4 separate regions of the Homo sapiens genome follow, and regions 2, 3 and 4 are each reported to be linked to region 1. The links are microRNA targets in miRTarBase. Many come from high-throughput screens and were not tested one by one. Region 1 holds a microRNA gene; each other region holds the end of a gene's coding sequence.
Evidence for each region. Region 1 holds the annotated microRNA hsa-miR-1252-5p (AGAAGGAAAUUGAAUUCAUUUA, at 2,800-2,821, opposite strand). A microRNA usually pairs through its seed, bases 2 to 8, with sites in the 3' UTR of a target mRNA and lowers its output. Matches are read on the target gene's strand: a 7mer-m8 pairs with bases 2 to 8, a 7mer-A1 pairs with bases 2 to 7 and ends in A, and an 8mer does both.

Region 1 (5,764 bases):
TGCAAATAAAATTACCGGCCTCGAGGAATGGCTTGTAAATACAAGGGAACCAAAGGAATTAGAAGGTGACAGATTGGAGTTCAAAAGCACTTAACATGAGGAAATTGATGTCCCTGAAGGAGAAGTTTCAATAAATGGAACAGGAAAAGTATTCACAAATACCACACAAGGAAATTTCACTAAAGAGAAAGAATAACCACATTTATAGATTGAAAGAACATACCATGTTCTAGGAAATACTGGTAACAGAATGCTTAACACAGCCCTGATTGAATACTTACAATTCAAGTATAAAGACATTCCTTGGGAATTTGAGAAAACAAACAAACAAACAAAAACACCCACCACCACCAACAATAAAAAAAAAAAACAGAAAACAAAAAAACAAAAAAAGTGTCACATTGGATAAAGCAAAAATTAGACTGGCTTCAAATGTCTCCATAACAGCATTCAATGCAAGAGCAATATGTATACCAACCAACATGTCAAGACAGATATTCTATCATGAAAGAATTTCAGTCAAGATGACATATAATTGGGTCTTGTGAATTTCTGGCCAGAATGGTTAGTAATGATGGTGTAGCCACCTTTAGAATAGCTATGCTAGCATTTTTCCAAAGTGTGACCTTTGAACTCCAGTGAGGTGTTCCTTGAACAAGGAAACTATGGTCAAACAGTTCAGAAGCACAGACTCTCTAAATGGCGCACCTTAGAAATTTATAAAACACACCAGCATATAAAAGAGTTCAAGACAGTAATGAAAAAGCAGCAGATCTCATTTGGAGGAAGTTTCATCTACCACAATGGATGGGAAAACAATTTAATAACTCAAAATAGCAATCAATTCCAAAACAATTCATATTTATTTTTCTACTTCCTCCTCCCCAAAATAAAATGTTATTATTTATTCATTCATTTATTTTAAAGCAATACGATCTTAAAATCCAGTTCAGGAATAAAAAAAGCAGAGTGGTGTTTTTAGGTCTACTTTGAAAGTACTAACAATAAATTCCCTCCTAAAGCAGCCATGTCAAATCTTTAAGCATGGCTCAATTTCACATCTGCTTTGTTTAAAGGAAAGCATCTTTGTGAAGGTTGCATTCCCACTGTGGAACTCTGGAAGTGGCAGGACTTTAGCTTGGTATTAAACGAGAGAAATTCTAGGAGATGTTCTGAAGCTGAACACTTTTTTTTTCCTTAGGGAACCAGGAACAATGTAACTGAGAAGGCAAAGGAGTAAATATCTTTTATTCTAGAAGAAAAACAATGCTACTACCACTTTGCAATACTTTTTCCTACTTCTCAGTATTTCTCCCATTTACATAAGCATAGTTTTTGATAGTGTGCAATGCCCTTCTATTTAGATTACAAACCACTGCTTTAGAATGGTGGAAGACTACTCTCTACTCACATCATATCTCTCTTGTGCTACTTTGAACTGGAAAAAGTGTTTTAATTCCAGACTGACTTGTTTCTGTTTCCCTACCTCCTCCTTGTCAGAGGACAGAAGTGTGCCAGGAATGTGGAATGAAAAAGCTGGAGGTAACTTTCAGCTTTGAGATAGTGTTATATTGTCTGTCCTTCTAAGATACTGCCCAGAGCTGACTGAGGTGAGAGAGTGGGTTGAAGAGTAACTGAGGTCAAAGGATTTCAACCAGTAAAGAAGGGAGGGACCCATAAACTGGAATGCAGGTATAAGATGCAGCAATTACCAGGATATGCTGCCCTCTTCAGGGTTTTTAAGGGAAAACTCACCAGTTAAAATTGGCTGAACATTTAAAAGTCTAACAGTGCCAACATGGCAAGGATATGAGCAATAGGAAAGCTCACACACTTCTGGTTGGGGTGTTATTTAATACATCTAGGAAATTTAAAAATTGTGCATACCCTACATTCCAGCAATCCCACTCTTATGTAAATATCTAGAAATACTCACCCACATTTGCACAAGGAGCTATGTTGTATTGTCTGTGACAGCAAGAGATTAGAAACAATTCAAAAATCCATTAGCTGACCAACTGGGGTATTTACCTACCATGGCATGTTATACAGCAATAAAAAGTAACAACGTTACTTTAATCAACACAGATACATCCCAAGAATGAAATATGGAGTCAAGTTGCAGAAGGATATATGATACAATTTATATAAAGCTTGAAAATGCACAAAATACATACAGTAAAGTGCCATTTATATGGCTGAAAACATACAAAACCAAAACTGTGTGTGTCATAAAAACATACATTGGAATGACAAACAAAATGAGAAAACAGGGTTGGGAATCATAAATTCAAGGTAACAGTTACCTCTGAGGAGAGAATGAGAGAAAGGAGATAAAGAGGACATAGGCTATTTTGATTATAGATGTTAGGTTTTATTTCTTTAGTGTGATAGGTACAAGAGTCTTCATTATATTATTATTTATACTTACTATTGTAGACCTCAAATATTTCATTAAAAAAATTGAGGTACTCCGAGTCAGATTCAACTAAAATGTATGAAGCACTTGCCATGTAGATAAAGCAGTGCTTTTCCACATTGGGCAGTGTAACAGCCAACACTGGAGAAGTCTATGCTTAGAAATGTAATTGAATCCCATTATCTGGCAACTTCTGCATTGTACCCTCAGATCCTTTGTTAGCCAGTGTGATCCCACCTGACCTGCTGCCGGATACTGTGAGCTTACCACTATGACTGATGAATTCATGGAGAAAGGGTGCAGTGGAAGGAGAAGAAAAGCAAGGTAGATTATTAAGATTTAGAAAAAAGGAAATTAAGCTCATTTGGAATTCTCTTTTCTAAATGAATTCAATTTCCTTCTTTCTACACCTCACATTTTTTCTCAACTTACCAATTTCTCAACAACTGTGTGATGGGAAATGTGAGTAGAAATTTAAAAATTCTTATAGAATCATTAGTCCCTTCTACATAGAGAAAAGGCAAAACTTTCTATTGGTTTCGTTTTGCCTAAAATAAGTAAGACTCAGTGGTCAATTAGTGGGATGTGTAAGCTGAAGTTAGATGTTCACTTCTGAGGCACCTATAGGGGAAGAAGGTACTACCCTCTATCAGTGGTTGTTAACTCTGGCTTCACAGTATAATCACCTGAGTTTTAAAATCTACTGACCCCTTGGCCATTCCCCCAGAAATTCTGAATTAGCTGTTCTGGGGTGGGGCCTCAGGTGTTCATATTTTACAAATATCACTTCCCAGGTGATTCTAACGTGCATACAGCATTGAAAACCACTCTTATCTCTCGGGCTCTGATATACCTGATATTGAACACATTTCAGGGCCATTGGTTACCACGGTTGGAAGAGTTACTGCTGGCCTTTCTTGTCAAGTTCATGACATGATGGGAGAGACCTTGGACAGATGTTTGTTTCCACTAATTGTCTCTCTACTCAGACATCTTTAAGACTTCTTGCCCAAACTCTCTGCTGGAGAATATTCTCTGTGCCTTGGCTCTTTCTTCATTCTTTTGTGCAAGGCCAGGTGTTTTGGAAACAGGCAGGGCTGTGCTATGCAGTGGGGGTGGTGAAGTCACCCACAAGGTCACAAAGATAATTGGTTTACTGTCTAACAGGTTCGGGCTCTTCAAACTCTTGGCCAGCCTCTTGACTTACATGTTGGTTAAAAGAATCATAAATCAATTACTTTTAAGCCTCCCCCTAACCAAAACCCCATTGGAGAGATTGTCAATAACATAAAGAAAAACCACGAATTTGAGAGCTAAAAAGTTAGTGTAACCTTCCATCCAGTGGACATTTTTAACAACACCTTATGAAATGATCATTCGGGCACCAAGTGAAAAATTTTCGCTAATTTCCATGCAAAATACTTCTAGGAAATTCCTATACATCTGGACCAAATGTTAGCGCTGGGACTACAAGGAGCAGCAGTCACTGTTCCAGCCCTTGATGATGGACAAGTGATTACAGGGACAGACCTATAACCAAGTAATTAAATAAGACATGAGACATCTAAGAAGACCTGTACATGTTCTATATACAAGTCATAAACATTAGAAAGAGGACGCTTTGTGTAGATCAGCTTTGCAGGAGAGTTTTTCACAGAGGGAGTAACGGTAGAGTAAGGTTTTTCAGCTTTGTCTTCAATATGTGTTCCCAGCATTGCCTGGGAACTGATTAGAAATGCAGAACATCGGGCCCCATCTTAGGCCCACAGAAGTAAAGTCTTTTTAACAAGATTCTCAGGACATGATATGCAAAAGAAAAACAGAAAAGCACAACTTTAGAGGTTCTCCAGGTTGAAGTGGGGGGTGGGAGTGGGGGGATACTATGATGACAGTTCAGGGAGAGCACTGACACCCACAAAACCTCCCCTGTGTGAATGCATAGTGTTATTACTGCTGGAGCATAGGGTAAATGATGCCATTTACAAGTGATGCCATTTGGAGAGGCAGGCCTGGACCTTGTCATGAAAGGGCTTGCAGAGCATTCTAAGGAATTCGAATTTCATCATGAAGGTAGTGAGAAGCTAATTAAAACCAATTAAATATTTTAAACAGGAGAGAGGCATAATGAGATTTTTGCTTTAGGATGAGGCCATTGGTAGTAACGTCAAGGCAGGAGCCAAGGGGGCTGGGCTTTGAGAGGCTGTTGTCATCAGTAGAGAAGTGGTGAGGGCCTAAACCAAGGCAGGTTGCGGGAAAGGAGGCAGAGGTGGAGATAAGAGAGAGATTTAGGAGGAATGAGCAACAGGGCATATTACTACATGATATTCCACATTTCCTTAAAAATCCTTTTAGAAATACATTGTATGCAATTGGATGAAGAGAAACCAACCACCTGGCCACCTAAGCAATCAACTAGCAAACAGAAAACGCAAACTCTCAATCACCAAATCCTAAATAAAAGTACAATTTAAGAAAATATGATTAGGAGGAAGACACAGGTTTCAATGACAAATTGTAAAAGCAGGGAAGACTAAATGAACATGTTCATTGTTTCTTTGTTTTTTGCTACCTCAAATTTTCAGAGACACTTTTGATAACTGACAATTGATACATGCTTTGCAATTCAGAGTAAGTTACAAATATATCATTGTTAGATATTATAGGAATCTTGAAGAAGAGAAAACACACACACACACATATTAGGATTTTCGTTGTATTTTTGCTATTTATGACTACACAGGGCTTCAGTTTTCTTACTGGCCAAAAAAGAAGCTATTCTTTTATGTTTCCTTGAAAGTGCAATCATTTTTAAGAGTATATTGTACCTTTTATATCTTCTTTCTTTATCAATAGTGTATAATAGAACTTGTTCATCTCAAATTTTCCTTTCAAAGCAGAAATGCATTTCAAATAGTTTGCTGTTTGAAATATTAACATGGCTGATTACTTTTTACTCATTCTTTTAGCAAAAAAATTAGACTTAGCCTTTTCTTTCCATTCTTAGGTTTTAATCAACAATACAAATTATGTATGAGAAGCCTTAGTGTATTATTAGCTGAGTTTTTTAAAAGATATTTGACAAAGCCCAAAACTAAATTACCAATGCTCGCATTTTTCTGAGTCATATTTTTTAATCTTTGAAAAAATAGTGATCATCTGTTATTTTACTACAATAATATGAATATAAACCTAAACTCTATTTAGAAGAGGATCTATACATAAAATGTCAAAATGTTAATGCCAATAAGGTTGTATGTTTCTAAGAAGCATTTGGACATGAAATGAAAATGGCAAAGATGTTCAACTTTTTGTTTTTGCCGTCTGGTCTTGCTGCCATCATTTCCT
Region 2 (5,764 bases), not on the chromosome of region 1:
TGTTGACTAGGGTGGTCTGGAACTCCTGACCTCAGGTGATCTGCCTGCCTCGGCCTCCCAAAGTGCTGGGATTACAGGTGTGAGCCACCACGTCTGGCCTCATTGTAATGTCTTAATGATTTACAAGGAAAGTGTCTATGAAAGACTTAGGTCCCTGTCAATCATCCTTTCAGACCCCTTCATCTTAGTTTATTTCCTTCCCCTTACAGAGCTGGGTGGACGAGAAGACGCCCTGGACGACTCGTTATGGCTCCATCGCAGGCTTGGCTGAGCTGGGACACGATGTTAGGCCTCTGGGAGGAAGAAATGGGGGAGGGGACACAGTCATGAGGTTATAGAGGGCACTGTACCCCCATCTGGGAGACCCTGGTGACCCTCCGGCTTTTGCTTGTCCTTTTCCCTTCTAACAGGTTATCAAGACTCTGATTCTGCCCCGGCTGCAGCAGGAAGGGGAGCGGATCCGCAGTGTGCTGGACGGCCCTGTGCTGAGCAACATTGACCGGATTGGAGCAGACCATGTGCAGAGCCTCCTGCTGGTGACTGAAGCCCCTGTCCCCACACCTGCCCACTGAGACACAGGCAGTGTTTAGCAAGCATATGGCATATTTTATTCACTTACTCCCATCTTTGCCTCATGTTTTCAGAGGACATTGCAGAGTCTGATACTATTTTACAGATGGAAAGACTGAGATTAGACTGAGTAAGAAATAAGGGGGCTGGGCATGATGGCTTCTGCCTGTAATCCCAGCACTCTGGGAGCCTAGGAGTATGAGGCCAGCCTGGACAACGTAGCGAGATCCCACCTGCAAAAAAAAAAACCAAAAAGCCGGGAGTGGTGACGTGTCTGTGGTCCCAGCTACTAGGGAGGCCGAGGTGGGAGGATTGCTTGAACCCAGGAGTTCAAGGCTACAGAGAGCTATGATCGTGCCACTGCACTCCAGCCTGGGTTACAGAGGGAGACCACCGCCCCCCAAAAAAGAAGGGTTTAACACGCTCAGCCTGTGGCATTTGGACCATCCTTCCCCAATGCTCCTGTTACTCTGTGGTCTTCTCTGTACAAGGCAAATGCGCTCTTGATTAACCATCCTGCCACAGTATTTAGCAAGTTCATTCACACATTAGTGCCCATGTTTTCTTTTTCTTTTCTTTTTTTTTTTTTGAGATGGAGTCTCACTCTGTAACCCAGGCTGGAGTGCAGTGGTGCGATCTCAGGCTCACTGCAACCTCTGCCTCTCAGGTTCAAGCAATTCTCATGCCTCAGCCTCCCAAGTAGCTGGGACCACAGGCACGCGCCACCATGCCTGGCTAATTTTTTGTATTTTTAGTAGAGACGGGGTTTCACCATATTGGCCAGGCTGGTCTTGAGCTCCTGACCTCAGGTGATCTGCCAGCCTCAGCCTCCCAAAGTGCTGGGATTACAGGCATGAACCACCACACCCAGCCATTCTTTTTTTTTTTTTTCTGAGACAGTCTCACTCTGTCACCCAAGCGGGAGTGCACTGATGCAACCTCTGCTCACTGCAGCCTCCACCACCTGGGTTCAAGCATTCTAGTACCTCAACCTCCCCAGTAGCTGGGACTACAGGTGCGTGCCACCATGCCTGGCTAGTTTTTGTATTTTTAGTGGAGATGAGGTTTCTCCATTTTGGCCAGGCTCTTGACCTCAAGTGATCCACCCACCTCAGCCTCCCAAGTGCTGGGATACAGGCCTAAGATGCTGCACCTGGCCCCGTGCCCATCTTTTCTTATGAGAAAGCCCACAGTGTTCTGTACACACACTAATAGTTCAGCATAATTTGGCCTTCAACAGGGGCACTGAGATGATAAGGAATGTCCTTTTTTACCCCATCCCCAAGGTTCTTCTCAAGAGTGTCACCAGCCCTCCCTCTACCTGGCTTTTTTCCCCAGCCCTCCCTCTACCTGGCTTTTTTTCTGTTCTGCAGAAACACTGTGCTCCTGTTCTGGCAAAGCTGCGCCCACCGCCTGACAATCAGGACGCCTATCGGGCAGAATTCGGGTCCCTTGGGCCCCTCCTCTGCTCCCAGGTGGTCAAGGCTCGGGCCCAGGCTGCTCTGCAGGCTCAGCAGGTCAACAGGACCACTCTGACCATCACGCAGGTCCGTGGCCGGGTGGGGAGGAGGAATAGGAGGAAGCAGAGGAGAACCCCTGTGTGGGACAGGCACTTGCACACAGCCACATGTGCCCTCAGTCAGTAGTCTCAGGGCAACCAGGCCCTGAGTGAGGATGCCCCAGCCCTAGTGAGAGCCACTGAGGAAGAGCGAGGGGAGCCCAGGCCTCTCCCTTCAGACTCCTCTTCTTAGTAGATGGTGCCACTTCCCCCTTTCCTCTTCTCCCCGCAGCCCCGGCCCACGCTGACCCTCTCGCAGGCCCCACAGCCTGGCCCTCGCACCCCTGGCTTGCTGAAGGTTCCTGGCTCCATCGCACTTCCTGTCCAGACACTGGTGTCTGCACGAGCGGCTGCCCCACCACAGCCTTCCCCTCCTCCAACCAAGTTTATTGTAATGTCATCGTCCTCCAGCGCCCCATCCACCCAGCAGGTATGCAGAGCTGTGGGACAGGGAGCATCTGGAGGGCCTGGGTTACCTCAGAGCACCCTGGGGAGGCCCAGGAGTAGAGCACAGTCCCCTCTGGGCCCCAAGTCAAGAGCTGGAAGAGGCGCCCACCAGGGTCCTGCAGGGCTGTAGCTGCCCTGCATGAACAAGGTCTCCAGCCATAGCTGTCTACAGGGTGAACTACAGGAACAACTTGTTCAGGCAGGGAGCGAGTGAAGCGTCCTCGCCAGGCCTCTGGGGGGCAGGGAGGGCACAGGGCAAGCGGCCTGCCTTTCCTTTCTATCCAGGTCCTGTCCCTCAGCACCTCGGCCCCCGGCTCAGGTTCCACCACCACTTCGCCCGTCACCACCACCGTCCCCAGCGTGCAGCCCATCGTCAAGTTGGTCTCCACCGCCACCACCGCACCCCCCAGCACTGCTCCCTCTGGTCCTGGGAGTGTCCAGAAGTACATCGTGGTCTCACTTCCCCCAACAGGGGAGGGCAAAGGAGGCCCCACCTCCCATCCTTCTCCAGTTCCTCCCCCGGCATCGTCCCCGTCCCCACTCAGCGGCAGTGCCCTTTGTGGGGGGAAGCAGGAGGCTGGGGACAGTCCCCCTCCAGCTCCAGGGACTCCAAAAGCCAATGGCTCCCAGCCCAACTCCGGCTCCCCTCAGCCTGCTCCGTGATGCTCCACCTGCCAGCCCCCGGATTCCCACACATGCAGACATGTACACACGTGCACGTACACACATGCATGCTCGCTAAGCGGAAGGAAGTTGTAGATTGCTTCCTTCATGTCACTTTCTTTTTAGATATTGTACAGCCAGTTTCTCAGAATAAAAGTTTGGTTTGTAAGTTCTGATCCACTGCAGTCCTTCCTGCATCAGATACCACAGAAAGGCTGGGCCCATTGCCCCCTCCTGGTCTTGGGACTGAGGACTCTTCCTGCCCAGATTCAGAGTCCGAAGGCCAGGAGGCTGGAAAAGAAACGACTGTCCTCCCGTGGGACAAACTGCCACCTTGGCCGTCGTGTCCTCGTTTGGGGAGCCTCAGATCCGAATGACATAGGCGTCGCTGTGGCTTAGGTGTCGCACCCACTTGTGGGGGTTGGCATTGCCGCATGGCCTGAAGGCCAGCCTGAGGAATCGGACCTGGAGGCCAGAGCACGTGTGCCGGGGAAGCTCGAAGGAGAGACTGGCAGGGCCCAGCCCCAGAGGAGAGGCCGAGGTGGAGAGCCCATGGCTGGGAGGTCCTGGGGGCCCTGGGACGTCCATCTGTGAGGGGCAGAGGCAGGGAGAGGAAGGAGGGCAAGAAGCTGACCACGCTGGGGGAACCAGGCAGCAGCTGCTTCGGGAGGGTGGGGTGGGGGCTGCAAGTGAATGTGGGAGGAGAGGGGCTGGGGGTCCACAGCGAATACCTGGAAAAGGCCTGAGAGTTGAGAGCCTCCTTGCACCCGAGGCAGGTCCCAGCGAAGGGCTCCCTCTGCCAGCTCAGCCTTCTGCTCTGGGCTGCTCAGCTCCTGAGACAGGCTGGAGTTTGGAAAGGGAAGGTGCTGGGCTTGGCACCTTCTTGAGGCAGACCCGTCATGCTGAGCTCACTCTCTCCCCAGGAATCTCCCCGTGGTGGGTGCACACACTCACCTGACCACCCCTCGAGGCAGGGGGAGGTGCAGCCTGACATTGAGGGCTTGGCTACAGAGGAGACGGGAACAAAGTCAGCCCCAGGAAGGCACAGTCCCTTGTCCTGTTCCTCTTCAATGTCATAACAGGATTTCAGCACAGGTGCCCCCCACCTTCCCAAATTCTACAGCCTCTACCTTAACTGGCTTCTGAGGCTGGCAGCTGCATCTGAAGGGAGAAGCAGCAGGTGCCCTGGCCCTGTCTTCCGTCCCATAGAGCTGAACTCAGCCAGGCCAGCCTCACTCTTACCTCTTTGAGAGCAGGTCACATCGCAACTTTAGATAAACCTGGAGCCTGGATGAGAGGGTAAAACACCACGACTCAGGCCATCTTCTACTGGCATCTCACCATTCCCCACCAGGGACCTCCATGTGGGGCTGTGTGGGTGTGGGCTGTACTCCCAAGAGGGAAAAGGGCTGAAGCCCAGCCCAACTCCATTAGCCAAAGCTTTTTCCTTTTTTTTTTTTTCAGAGAGATGGGGTCTCACTATGTTGCCCAGGCTGGTCTGGAACTCCTGGGCTCAAGTGATCCTCCCGCCTCAGCCTCCCAAAGTGCTAGGATTACAGGTGTGAGCCACCGGCCGCAACCCAAGCCTTTTTCCAATTTGCACTCCATCACCACTACCACCACCCCCACTCTGCAGTGAGTCTTGGGAACATACAGGTCTTGGCTTGGGTTCCAAGGTAGTTCTAGAACCCAGGAAATTGTCTCACCGGCCTGAGCCTCGGTCCCACTGCACAGAGGGGAAGAGCCGGAAGGGGAGCGGTGAGGGGAGGTCATCGGAGAGTTGGTACCGCATCACAGTCAGCTGAGAGACCAGAGAGCAACAAGGTTAGTTTGGTCTCACGACCCCACTGCCCCCTTCCCCATGGTGGACGGAATTTATGAGGCCACCCCAACCCTGACCTCGCCCTGAGGTGGTTGCAAGCGGAGGATTCGATGAGACTCAAATTCGTCCAGATTCACAGAGCTGTGAAACGAGACTTCATCGACCCGGATTCCTGGCCCATAACCTGGAAAGAGAGAGAGAGAGACTTCTCTCCTGACTCCTGTTTTGGGAGAGGAGCAAGGAGAGGGGAGGCTCTGTCTGACTTCTCTCCATGAACTCTGGCAATGACCTACTCCAAGGGGAGAAAGACCCACTTTCTCCTCACCTCTCAGCTCTGACTTCCCCACACAAAACTCTTCCGTCAAGCCAATGCGCATCTCTGTCGGAGGAGAGACCATCAGGAGAGCTCAGCAATGCCATGGTTTAAGACACCAAGGAACCCGCCCTAACCCCAACCCTTGGTCCTGCCTGCAGATGCCTCACCAGAGCCGCTAGGAAGGAAGCTCTTGAGCCGAATCTCTCCCTGCACATCCACCTTCAGCAGGGATCCCTGAGAGGCAGGGGCGTCAAGGTTAGAGTCTTTTTTTCTTTCTTTTTTTGAGACGGTCTCGCTCTGTCGCCCAGGCTGGCAGTGGCGTGATCTCGGCTCACTGCAACCTCCACCTCCCAGGTTCAAGACATTCTCCTGCCTCAGCCTCACAAGT
Region 3 (3,758 bases), not on the chromosome of region 1:
GGTACTGCTAATTTCTCCTCTCCCAGCTGAGGCTCAGCTGAGATAGTGGATGTGACAGCCGAGCTTTGCAAGCTGGGGAGCTCCACATACGCGTACCGGACTGTGATTTGGTTTTTATTACAACTTGGGGTTTGCTGTCTCCCCAGCTCCAGCCCTCAGGGACAGGGGTGGAATTTAGGGCTGGGGGTTTAGGGCATCTAGCCTGGCCTGACTTCCCCCCTCCCCGCTTCCAGGGGTCTGTTATTAGCAGTCCACGCCCTCACCAGAGGATGCCACCTCCGCCCCCACCCCCGCCGCCAGAGGAGTACAAGAGCCAGAGGCCCGTCTCCAACTCCTCATCCTTCCTGGGCTCCCTATTTGGAAGCAAGCGGGGCAAGGGGCCCTTCCAGATGCCACCACCGCCAACAGGCCAGGCCTCTGCCTCCTCTTCATCTGCTTCTTCCACGCACCACCACCACCACCACCACCATCATGGCCATAGCCACGGTGGCCTGGGGGTGCTGCCTGATGGGCAGTCCAAGCTCCAGGCCCTGCATGCCCAGTATTGCCAAGGACCGGGCCCTGCCCCGCCACCCTACCTCCCACCCCAGCAGCCCTCTCTTCCCCCACCTCCCCAGCAGCCCCCACCCTTGCCCCAGCTGGGCTCCATTCCACCGCCTCCCGCCTCAGCCCCACCTGTGGGGCCACATCGCCACTTCCACGCCCATGGCCCAGTCCCAGGGCCCCAACACTATACCTTGGGCCGGCCAGGCAGGGCACCCAGACGGGGGGCTGGAGGACACCCTCAGTTTGCTCCACATGGCCGCCACCCCCTGCACCAGCCCACATCCCCACTGCCCCTGTACAGTCCTGCCCCCCAGCACCCTCCAGCCCACAAACAGGGCCCTAAGCACTTCATCTTCAGCCACCACCCACAGATGATGCCAGCAGCAGGCGCGGCTGGGGGCCCTGGATCCCGGCCACCAGGGGGCTCCTACTCCCACCCCCACCACCCCCAGTCACCATTGTCACCACACTCACCCATCCCACCCCACCCCTCCTATCCACCCCTCCCCCCACCCTCCCCTCACACCCCGCACTCACCCCTTCCACCCACCTCCCCCCATGGCCCGCTGCACGCCTCTGGGCCCCCTGGCACAGCCAACCCCCCCAGTGCAAACCCCAAGGCCAAGCCAAGCCGGATCAGCACCGTGGTCTGATGAATGGAGAGAGTGAGCTGGGGAACAGGAAAGTCTGGGGAGCCACAGGAGAGGGACCTTGCACCCTCTTTGCTTCCTCGGTTTTTTCAAAAATATATATACACATAGCAATGTCCTCCTCCCCATGTCCTCCCTGCCTTGGGACCCGTCCTCTCACCCCCAGCAGTTGCCATGGGGTTTCCTTCCAGATTCGAGGATCCTTGCCACTTGAAGCCTGGACTCAGGGTGCTCCAGCGCTGGGGAGTGGTGAGGGCCTTCCAGAGATCCTCGTACTCTTTCTCCCGTCTTCTTCTTCCCCACTTTTCCCTGGAGGTCTAGCTCTGTGGCCTCAGACCTCTGGGCCTGTGTGAGCTCTCTGTGAGCTCTGGCTGGCGGAGAAGGGCAGGTGTCCGGAGCTGTCGGGGTGAAGGCTTCCCTGGGGCTCCTCTGGCCGTGTGGGGCTAGGAGAGCGCTCTGTAGAGTTGTGGCCAAACTTCAGCTGGCTTGGCCCTCTCTCTGACCTCAGGGCCTGGCCACACACTTCCATGTGTCTTTTTGCCTGCTGGAGGACACGGACCATTGATGCACTTGGTGGGTGGGACCCTGCTTGTGTTGGCCCCACGTGGGGCAGTGCTTCCTCTCTCGAGCCAGTCTATGCCCTTTCTCCAGTAGGCCCCAGCCCAGACCTCTTCGGCTTCAGGAACTTGCCTCGCCCTGCAACGTTCTTATCCTGATCAAAGTCCAGACAGGTTTTGGGGGGGGCTCAGGTCTGGGATGAGAAGGGCACTGCCCTCCCTCACCCATATTGCATGCCCCCCCGCCATTCCCTTACACCTACCCCACCTACAACTGAAGACAATGCACTTTACAGATATCACCCACACACACCTCGCTGGGGCAGGGGCACCCAGCATCAGCCCTGGGGAGAGAGGCTCCCAAAGGGCCACCATGAGCCCAAGATATCCTTCCTGAGGCAGAGATTGAAGCCATCAGAGCTGGGGTTGGGAGCCAGAATGCCTGAGTCCTTCTGTCCGTCAGAATCTCCGCTGCCTCTCCAGCCCTTTTGCAGCCCTGTTTATTTATTATAAATATATTTTTTACAAGCCCCAGCTCCTCTTCTTGCCCCGCATATCCAGCTCCTCACTCAGCTCCTGCCTCCCTCTCCCCTCTCCACCATGGGCTGCAGTATAGACAGACAGATGGACCCTGGCTGTACGAAGGGCCAGGGCCACTGGGGCTTGGGGGCGGGGGAGGGTGGCAGTGGGAGGGGCTGTATGGAGAGGAGCTGGGGTTCAGGCATTGTCTTTTTTCCTCCTTGTATATAAGAATGTATATTTGATGCCTCATAAAAGACCTTGTGCTCACCTCCTGCCTCTGCCTCCTACTTCTGCGCCCCTTCCCCACTGTGGAGCCCATGGAGAGAGGCCTTAGCCCAGGGAGGCAATGCGCTAATGGTAGAAATTCAGGCACCTGGGTGGACGAGATGCTTTGCTTGGAGGGAGGTGGGAGTGAGGGAGGTTTTCCTATCTCATTTCATACACAGTTTGTGCGACAGAGTGGCAAGAGTATGGGCTTTGGAGTTGATCCAGTTCACATCCTGGGGTTTTCACTTCCTAGGCATGTGAATTCGGGAGAGTCACCCTCTCTGAGTCTCAGTTTCCTCAGTGTAAAACTTGGGGTGATAAGCCATTGCCACATGGAGATATGATGATTCCCAGGGGTAATGGGTGCCAAGGAGCCAGGACAGAGCTGAGCAAGTTAGTTCCCTTGTCTTCGTTTCATAGGATGAATGCTTCCTTCCACTCTTGGGGCATCTCCTCTCACCCTGGATGTGGCTGGCCTGGCCTGGCCTTGGAGCTCCTCCTCATCCCCACAATGGCTGGCCACATTTCTATCCTTGAGGGTAGGGGAGTGATTTGGAAGGCACAGGGCTAGATACATTTTAAGAGTTCTGCATATACACTTAGGATGTCAGATAACAAAGAGCTGGACTCCCTTTCGTTTACAGAGAAGGGGACAGGCTGAGAGAAGGGAAGAGTCTCTCCCGAGGCCACTCAGCAAGTCAGGATGGGGTTTCCTGACTTCTAGCCCCAGGGCCCTTTCCAGTCCTCCCAAACCTCTTCCCTCCGAAACGGACGTGTTTCTAGCATCACTGATTATGTCCTGGATCTTAGCCTAGCGCAGGAGAAGTGGGGTTGAGCCATGGTTCTTGGTTAGAGTCAGCAGGGTCCCCAGAAGCAGCATTCAGTTACTGTTTTTGCTGCCTTCCTAGAATCTGGAATGGCCTCTAAAAGGGAATGGTTTGGATGGCCCCGCTCTTAGCAGCTCAGACCAATTCTTTGTTTTCTTCCTTGTATGCATGTTTAAAGGTGTCCCAGGGAAGACAACTAGCAAAAGCAGCAGCTGGGGCCACCTACGCATTTGATGCCGCCTCATGGACCAGACTTGAGGGTTTGAAGAGCTTAGACCCACAGGGTCCTGAATCAAGTCCAATCAACATTTTTTAGTTTTCTTCCCTGCTGGACCAAGCTGCACGATCATTTCCCCACCTTCAACTTGATTCTGGTTGCATTTTTCCAA
Region 4 (5,764 bases), not on the chromosome of region 1:
AGGTCATAGCTAGTAAGTAGAAGGGCAGACCCTCAACCTGAGGCTTCCTGAAGCCTGAGCCTAGGCTCCAACCGGCAGCTGCATTCCTGCACACCTGGCCCAGCAGGAGAAGGGCAGCTCTGCATGCCTCCCTCCACAGCAGCCTGGAGCTGGCTTTGTGGCCCTGTGAGAACACAAAGCTCTGCCCAGCGCCTCGCTGTGCCTGCTCTGGGCCCTGTAGTGTCTGTCTCCCCAGTCCCTGCCCCTCTCACCTCCCAGCTCACCAGAGGCCCCCTTTACTTAGCCTCCCTTACTGGCCGGTTGCTTCGATCATCTGGCTTCTTACCTGCTAGCCAACAAGCGTGTGCCAAGCTCTACTCCTACAGTCTGCAAGGCTACAGGTGAGCTCCTCCCAGGGAGGGGAGAGGAGAGGCAGAAGAGAGAAGGCCTGGGTGTCAGGGAGGAGGCGACAGTCAGTGGGAAGCGCTTGTGATTCTCCTTTCCCACGGCCTCCCTTTCCCCAGCTGTTTCTTGGGAGCTAAGTGGGCCTGAGGAGACTCAGAGCCCTCTTCCCCCACTTCCATCTTCCACAGCTGGCTGGGGGAGACACTGCCGCTCTGGGGCTCCCACCTGCTCACCGTGGTGCGGCCCAGCTTGCAGCTGGCCTGGGCTCACACCAATGCCACAGTCAGCTTCCTTTCTGCCCACTGTGCCTCTCACCTTGCGTGGTTTGGTGACAGTCTCACCAGTCTCTCTCAGAGGGTAAGTCAGAGACAGGGAGTCAAATAAGGGGCTGGTTTTCCCAGGAGCAGAATTCTGGGAAAGGAGCAGCACTGTGTGGCCTGAGTCTTTAGGGCCAGGATGCAGTTCCCTGGATACTCTGACCCCATCCATTCTCCATGGTCCAGCTACAGATCCAGCTCCCCGATTCCGTGAATCAGCTACTCCGCTATCTGAGAGAGCTGCCCCTGCTTTTCCACCAGAATGTGCTGCTGCCACTGTGGCACCTCTTGCTTGAGGCCCTGGCCTGGGCCCAGGAGCACTGCCATGAGGCATGCAGGTGAGACCTTTGCCCAGGGCTCCGGCAGGATCCCCAGCAGCCCCATTCCCGGGCCCCAGGGACAAGCCATCTCTATCCAGTCTCCCACACTGTCCTGCCCCTCGCTCCCATTCCTGGCCACCCTGGGATGAGGGTTGTGGGTCTAAGCTTTCATCCCCGAAAGTTGACACAGCTACTCACGTGCATACTCAAAAATGTTCCACTTTCCTTCCAGAGGTGAGGTGACCTGGGACTGCATGAAGACACAGCTCAGTGAGGCTGTCCACTGGACCTGGCTTTGCCTACAGGACATTACAGTGGCTTTCTTGGACTGGGCACTTGCCCTGATATCCCAGCAGTAGGCCCTGCCTTCCTGGCCACTGATTTCTGCATGGGTAGACCATCCAAGACTGCAGCGGGTAGAAGGTGGCAGTTCTTCATGGGAGTCTTTTTAACTTGGTGCCTGAGTTCTCTCCTAGGCAAGTGGCCAGTTGCCTCCACCTCAGTTCTTCCATCTTTGGTGGGGACAGGGCCCAGCAGCATCTCAGCCTCCTACCCACAATTCCACTGAACACTTTTCTGGCCCTACTGCACATGGCCCCCAGCCTCCATCCTTGTGCTGGTAGCCTCTCACAACTCCGCCCTTGCCCTCTGCCTTCCACTTCCTTCCATCTCATTTCTAAACCCCAAACAGCTCATCTCTAAAAAGATAGAACTCCCAGCAGGTGGCTTCTGTGTTCTTCTGACAAATGATTCCTGCTTCTCCAGACTTTAGCAGCCTCCTGTTCCCATTCTTGGTCACAGCTCTAGCCACAGCAGAAGGAAAGGGGCTTCCAGAAGAATATAGCACCGCATTGGGAAACAGCAGCCTCACCTCCACCTGAAGCCTGGGTGTGGCTGTCAGTGGACATGGGGAGCTGGATGGAAATGCCTCTCACTTCAAAATGCCCAGCCTGCCCCAAATGCCTCTAAGCCCCTCCCTGTCCCCTCCCTTGTAGTCCTACTTCTTCCAACTTTCCATTCCCCATCATGCTGGGGGTCTTGGTCACAAGGCTCAGCTTCTCTCCACTGTCCATCCCTCCTATCATCTGTAGAGCAGAGCACAGGCAGTTGTGTGCCTTGGGCCCAGGGAACCCTCCATCAACCTGAGACAGGACTCAGTATATGGTTCTTGGGTATGCCCTACCAGGTGGAATAAAGGACACAGATTTGATTTCTAGCATTCTTGTCTGCATCCTCATATAGAAATTCCCCTAGTTATGGTTCAGAATAACAAAATCCTGGGCCCTTGCCCTCCTGAAGACTGTAGCCGTGGCTGTAATTAAGCTCCTGGTGGGGGAAGCCCACACACATGGTTCTAAAGTTTGACCTGGTGGGTGTTCTAGACACTTCTCTTGCTACCCTAATTATAGTGTCTGACTTGTCACTGTGATTCACGTCCCAGATTTGCCTTGATAGTTTTACGCTTAGAAAAGCAGGGGGCCGTCTCCTAGGGGAATTCTTGGCCAGTGACCAGGAGGTGTCCTTTCCTTGCCAGGACCTTCATTTTATAGAGCAGTGAGTGAAAGATTTAGAACTCCAAGGGACACATGAGTCCAAGGTTTATCACCGAAGCCCCTTTTTATTTTTGACTTGAGACTATAAGGAGTTAGATAACTCTGCTGGTTTCTTAGTTCTCAATTTTGTTTCCTTAAATGTTTCAAGTCAGCAGTACTAGAGATACGCTCTAGCAGTTCTCAAAGGCAGATTCAGCTTCCCTCATAAACTCCCATGACACTCAGCAGGTATGATGGCCAGTTATCACTTCCCCTCTCACACGGTGCCCTGAGACACTCCGCTTTTTCAGTGGTTCGAATATAAAGTAGCAGATGTAGGAAAGTATCGACCCAAAGTGAGGTCATGAATACAACAGCATCTCGTGTTCGCTACGTTTCCTCTGGAATTAGCCCACAAGCAGACCCCTTGCTCTCCTAGTGGCAATTAACCATGACCATCTTCCTGGAGAAGAGAAACTACCTGGCAAAGGGCCAAAGTCTTAGGACTGCTGGGCAGGAGAACTGGCCTGTGTTCAAGGTGAGTTGGAGAAAGGTGGCAGTTGTGAGAATGGGTTGACAATGGCACAGGGAGGACAAGTTCGGTGATAACTGTTGTAGAAGTCCAAGGCTGCATCCAGCGAACCAAGGATGCCACAAGTGCTGTGTTGGCTTCTAATGTGTGACTATATTTACCTTGCTGGGTTCATTTAACTTCTGACACTAAAATCCTGGGGAGCAACATTTTTCATCAACTTAGATTAATTGTGGTCTCTACTTACAGGAACACTGACAGCTTAATTGACTTTATTCGATAGATACAGTTTTTTGACCCAATGTTGAAATTGTCGGAAATTTTTCCTGTGTGGTGGACTAGTCCAATACGCACCTGCTCTGCATTAAAGCAAAACCAGATGTCCAGACATTTCATTTTTGCAGAGCTGTCAACAAACAGGAGTCCAAGCGGGGCCAGTAAATTGAACCAGCATAGGACAGTGATGCTGACAGGTGGGGCAGTCACACTGTAACTATTGCTGTTATTGGAAGAACCAAAAGGAGCTGACACCTCAGAGAGTCACACATCTGGACAGTAACTCCACACAGCTGAAGTTCAACCGATAACACACCATAAAGCTGAAGGGCAGTTATGAGTATGTTTATTTCTTACTAACTTTATTACCAGTTCTTTTGTGGACTTGAAAATAATATGCATGACTCACTTTGAAACATCCTTTCGTTTTCCTAAGTCTCCAGCAGATTTCTGGATTTCTCTGGTTATTTGTATCCAATCCACACTTCAGTTCTAGAGCAGGGCAGCTTGATGGGTAGCCTGACTTACTACGATGGATGTCACTAGGCAGATAGTGTTGCTGAGCTCATGCCTGCTACATTGTCAGTCCATTCACAAAATGCCACCACCATAAAGAGGGCGGGTTGTTTCCCACAGAGCCAGGCACACCTGCCCTGCCCTGTTACAGAATGACCCAGTGTCAATTACACAGGCATTTGTTTTTTGTTTTAAAGAAACGGGGTCTTGCCCTGTTGCCCAGGCTGGAGTGAAGTGGTTCGTGATCATAGCTCACCGCAGCCTCAAAATCCTGGGCTCAATGATCCTCACACCACAGCCTCCCGAGTATTTGGGCCTACAGATGCGTGCCATGCCCGCCTCCTTTTTTAAAAATTTTTTGTAGAGATGGCTCCTCACTATGTTGCCTAGGCTGGTCCCATTGATTATAGGTTCATTGATTCATATAATCAGTAAACTCCAGGTCTCTAGTGATCCTCCACCTTGGCTTCCCAAAGTGTTGGGATATTACAGGCATGAGCCGCCGTGCCCGGCCCTATACAGACATTTCAGTGGTTCAATGACCTCTGAGCATTTTGTTGTCTTACCTCACCTAAAGGAGTTTAAATTTAAGTGGACACTTAGAGTGATCTGTTTTTACTACATACCCTTCACAGTTGTTGAGGGGAGAAAGGGCCTTGCTTTTCCCTATGTGTATTCCCTTTATACTGGGCAGTTTTGGTGCTCTACTTGAGGTATAAGAAGGATTTTGGAGGGAGTGTCCACTGTTCAGGGTATGAGTGAATATTTAGTAAATATTGACTATTCTGCCTATTAATACAAATGTTGACTTTGAATGTGTTGTTGGATGTGCCTTGATATAACTTCTTTTTGTGTTAGCACATCACTTACTAATTTTTGAATAGACTTTTTTTTGTTTGTTTGAGACAGAGTTTTGCTCTTGTTCCCCAGGCTGGAGTACAATGGCGTGATCTCGGCTCACTGCAACCTCCGCTTCCCAGGTTCAAGTGATTCTCCTGCCTCAGCCTCCCAAGTAGCTGGGACCACAGGTGCCCGCCACCACGCCAAGCTAATCTTTTGTATTTTTAGTGGAGAGGGGGTTTCACCATGTTGGCTAGGCTGGTCTCAAACTCCTGACCTCAGGTGATCCACCCGCCTTGCCCTCCCAAAGTGCTGGGATTACAGGCATGAGCCACCATGCCTGGCCTGAATAGACTATTTTTTAGAGCAGTTTTAGGTTCACATCAAAATTGAGTGAGAGTTTCCATATATTTCCTCCCCAACCCGCCCCCACCACAGCCTCCCCCACCATCAACATCCCATACTGCTGTGGTACATTTGTTGTAATCAATGAACCTACATTGACACATCGTCCATAATGTAAGTCCATAGCTTACATTAGGGTTCGCTATCTGCGTTGTACACTCTGTAGGTTTTGATAACTGTCCAATAGCATGTATACACCATTATATAGAAGAGTTTCACTGCCATGAAAATCTCCTGTGCTCTACCTATTCCTCCCTCCCTTCTTCCCCCAGAGCCGAAGGAACCACTGATCTTTTACTCTCTCCAGTTTTGTCTTTTCCAGAATGCCATATAGTCAAAATCATACTATGTGGCCTTTTCAGATTGGCTTCTTTCATTTGGTAATTTTTTTTTTTTTTTTTTTTTTTGAGACAGGGTCTTACGCTGTCACCCAGGCTGGAGTGCAGTGGTGCAATCTCGACTCACTGCAACCTCTGCCTCCTGGTTTCAAGCGATTCTCCTGCCTCAACCTCCCAAGTAGCTGAGAGTACAGGTGCGTGCCACCACCCCTGGCTAATTTTTGTATTTTTGCTAGAGACAGGGTGTCACCATGCTGGCCAGGCTGGTCTCAAACTCCTGTACTCAAGTGATCCACCTGTCTCG

Region 2: miRTarBase lists TAF6 as a target of hsa-miR-1252-5p. Seed matches in the 3' UTR shown: 8mer at 3,340-3,347.
Region 3: miRTarBase lists IQSEC2 as a target of hsa-miR-1252-5p. Seed matches in the 3' UTR shown: 7mer-m8 at 1,378-1,384.
Region 4: miRTarBase lists TMEM214 as a target of hsa-miR-1252-5p. Seed matches in the 3' UTR shown: 7mer-m8 at 1,681-1,687.

Annotation. Positions count from the first base shown.
Region 1 is chr12:79,416,318-79,422,081 of GRCh38, reverse strand. MIR1252 (microRNA 1252) reads right to left here and starts at 2,825; the gene lies at 2,761-2,825. The region is part of intron 9 of SYT1 (synaptotagmin 1); the gene reads right to left.
Region 2 is chr7:100,104,720-100,110,483 of GRCh38, reverse strand. TAF6 (TATA-box binding protein associated factor 6) reads left to right here. Exons shown (of 15, transcript NM_139315.3): 11 at 210-284; 12 at 411-536; 13 at 1,944-2,117; 14 at 2,361-2,558; 15 at 2,861-3,414. The coding sequence ends at 3,238. AP4M1 (adaptor related protein complex 4 subunit mu 1) reads right to left here. Exons shown (of 15, transcript NM_004722.4): 8 at 5,544-5,610; 9 at 5,386-5,439; 10 at 5,138-5,244; 11 at 4,945-5,039; 12 at 4,481-4,525; 13 at 4,193-4,243; 14 at 3,970-4,081; 15 at 1,445-3,826. The coding sequence ends at 3,602. Among named protein-coding and RNA genes, the nearest start is that of AP4M1, 6.0 kb to the right of the region's middle. RefSeq lists an enhancer at 2,637-3,137.
Region 3 is chrX:53,231,660-53,235,417 of GRCh38, reverse strand. It overlaps IQSEC2 (IQ motif and Sec7 domain ArfGEF 2), which reads left to right. Exons shown (of 15, transcript NM_001111125.3): 15 at 234-2,542. The coding sequence ends at 1,199. Among named protein-coding and RNA genes, the nearest start is that of KDM5C, 8.3 kb to the right of the region's middle.
Region 4 is chr2:27,039,458-27,045,221 of GRCh38, forward strand. TMEM214 (transmembrane protein 214) reads left to right here. Exons shown (of 17, transcript NM_017727.5): 14 at 284-380; 15 at 573-741; 16 at 888-1,039; 17 at 1,254-2,237. The coding sequence ends at 1,380. Among named protein-coding and RNA genes, the nearest start is that of AGBL5-AS1, 7.9 kb to the right of the region's middle. RefSeq lists enhancers at 1-552, 2,226-2,275.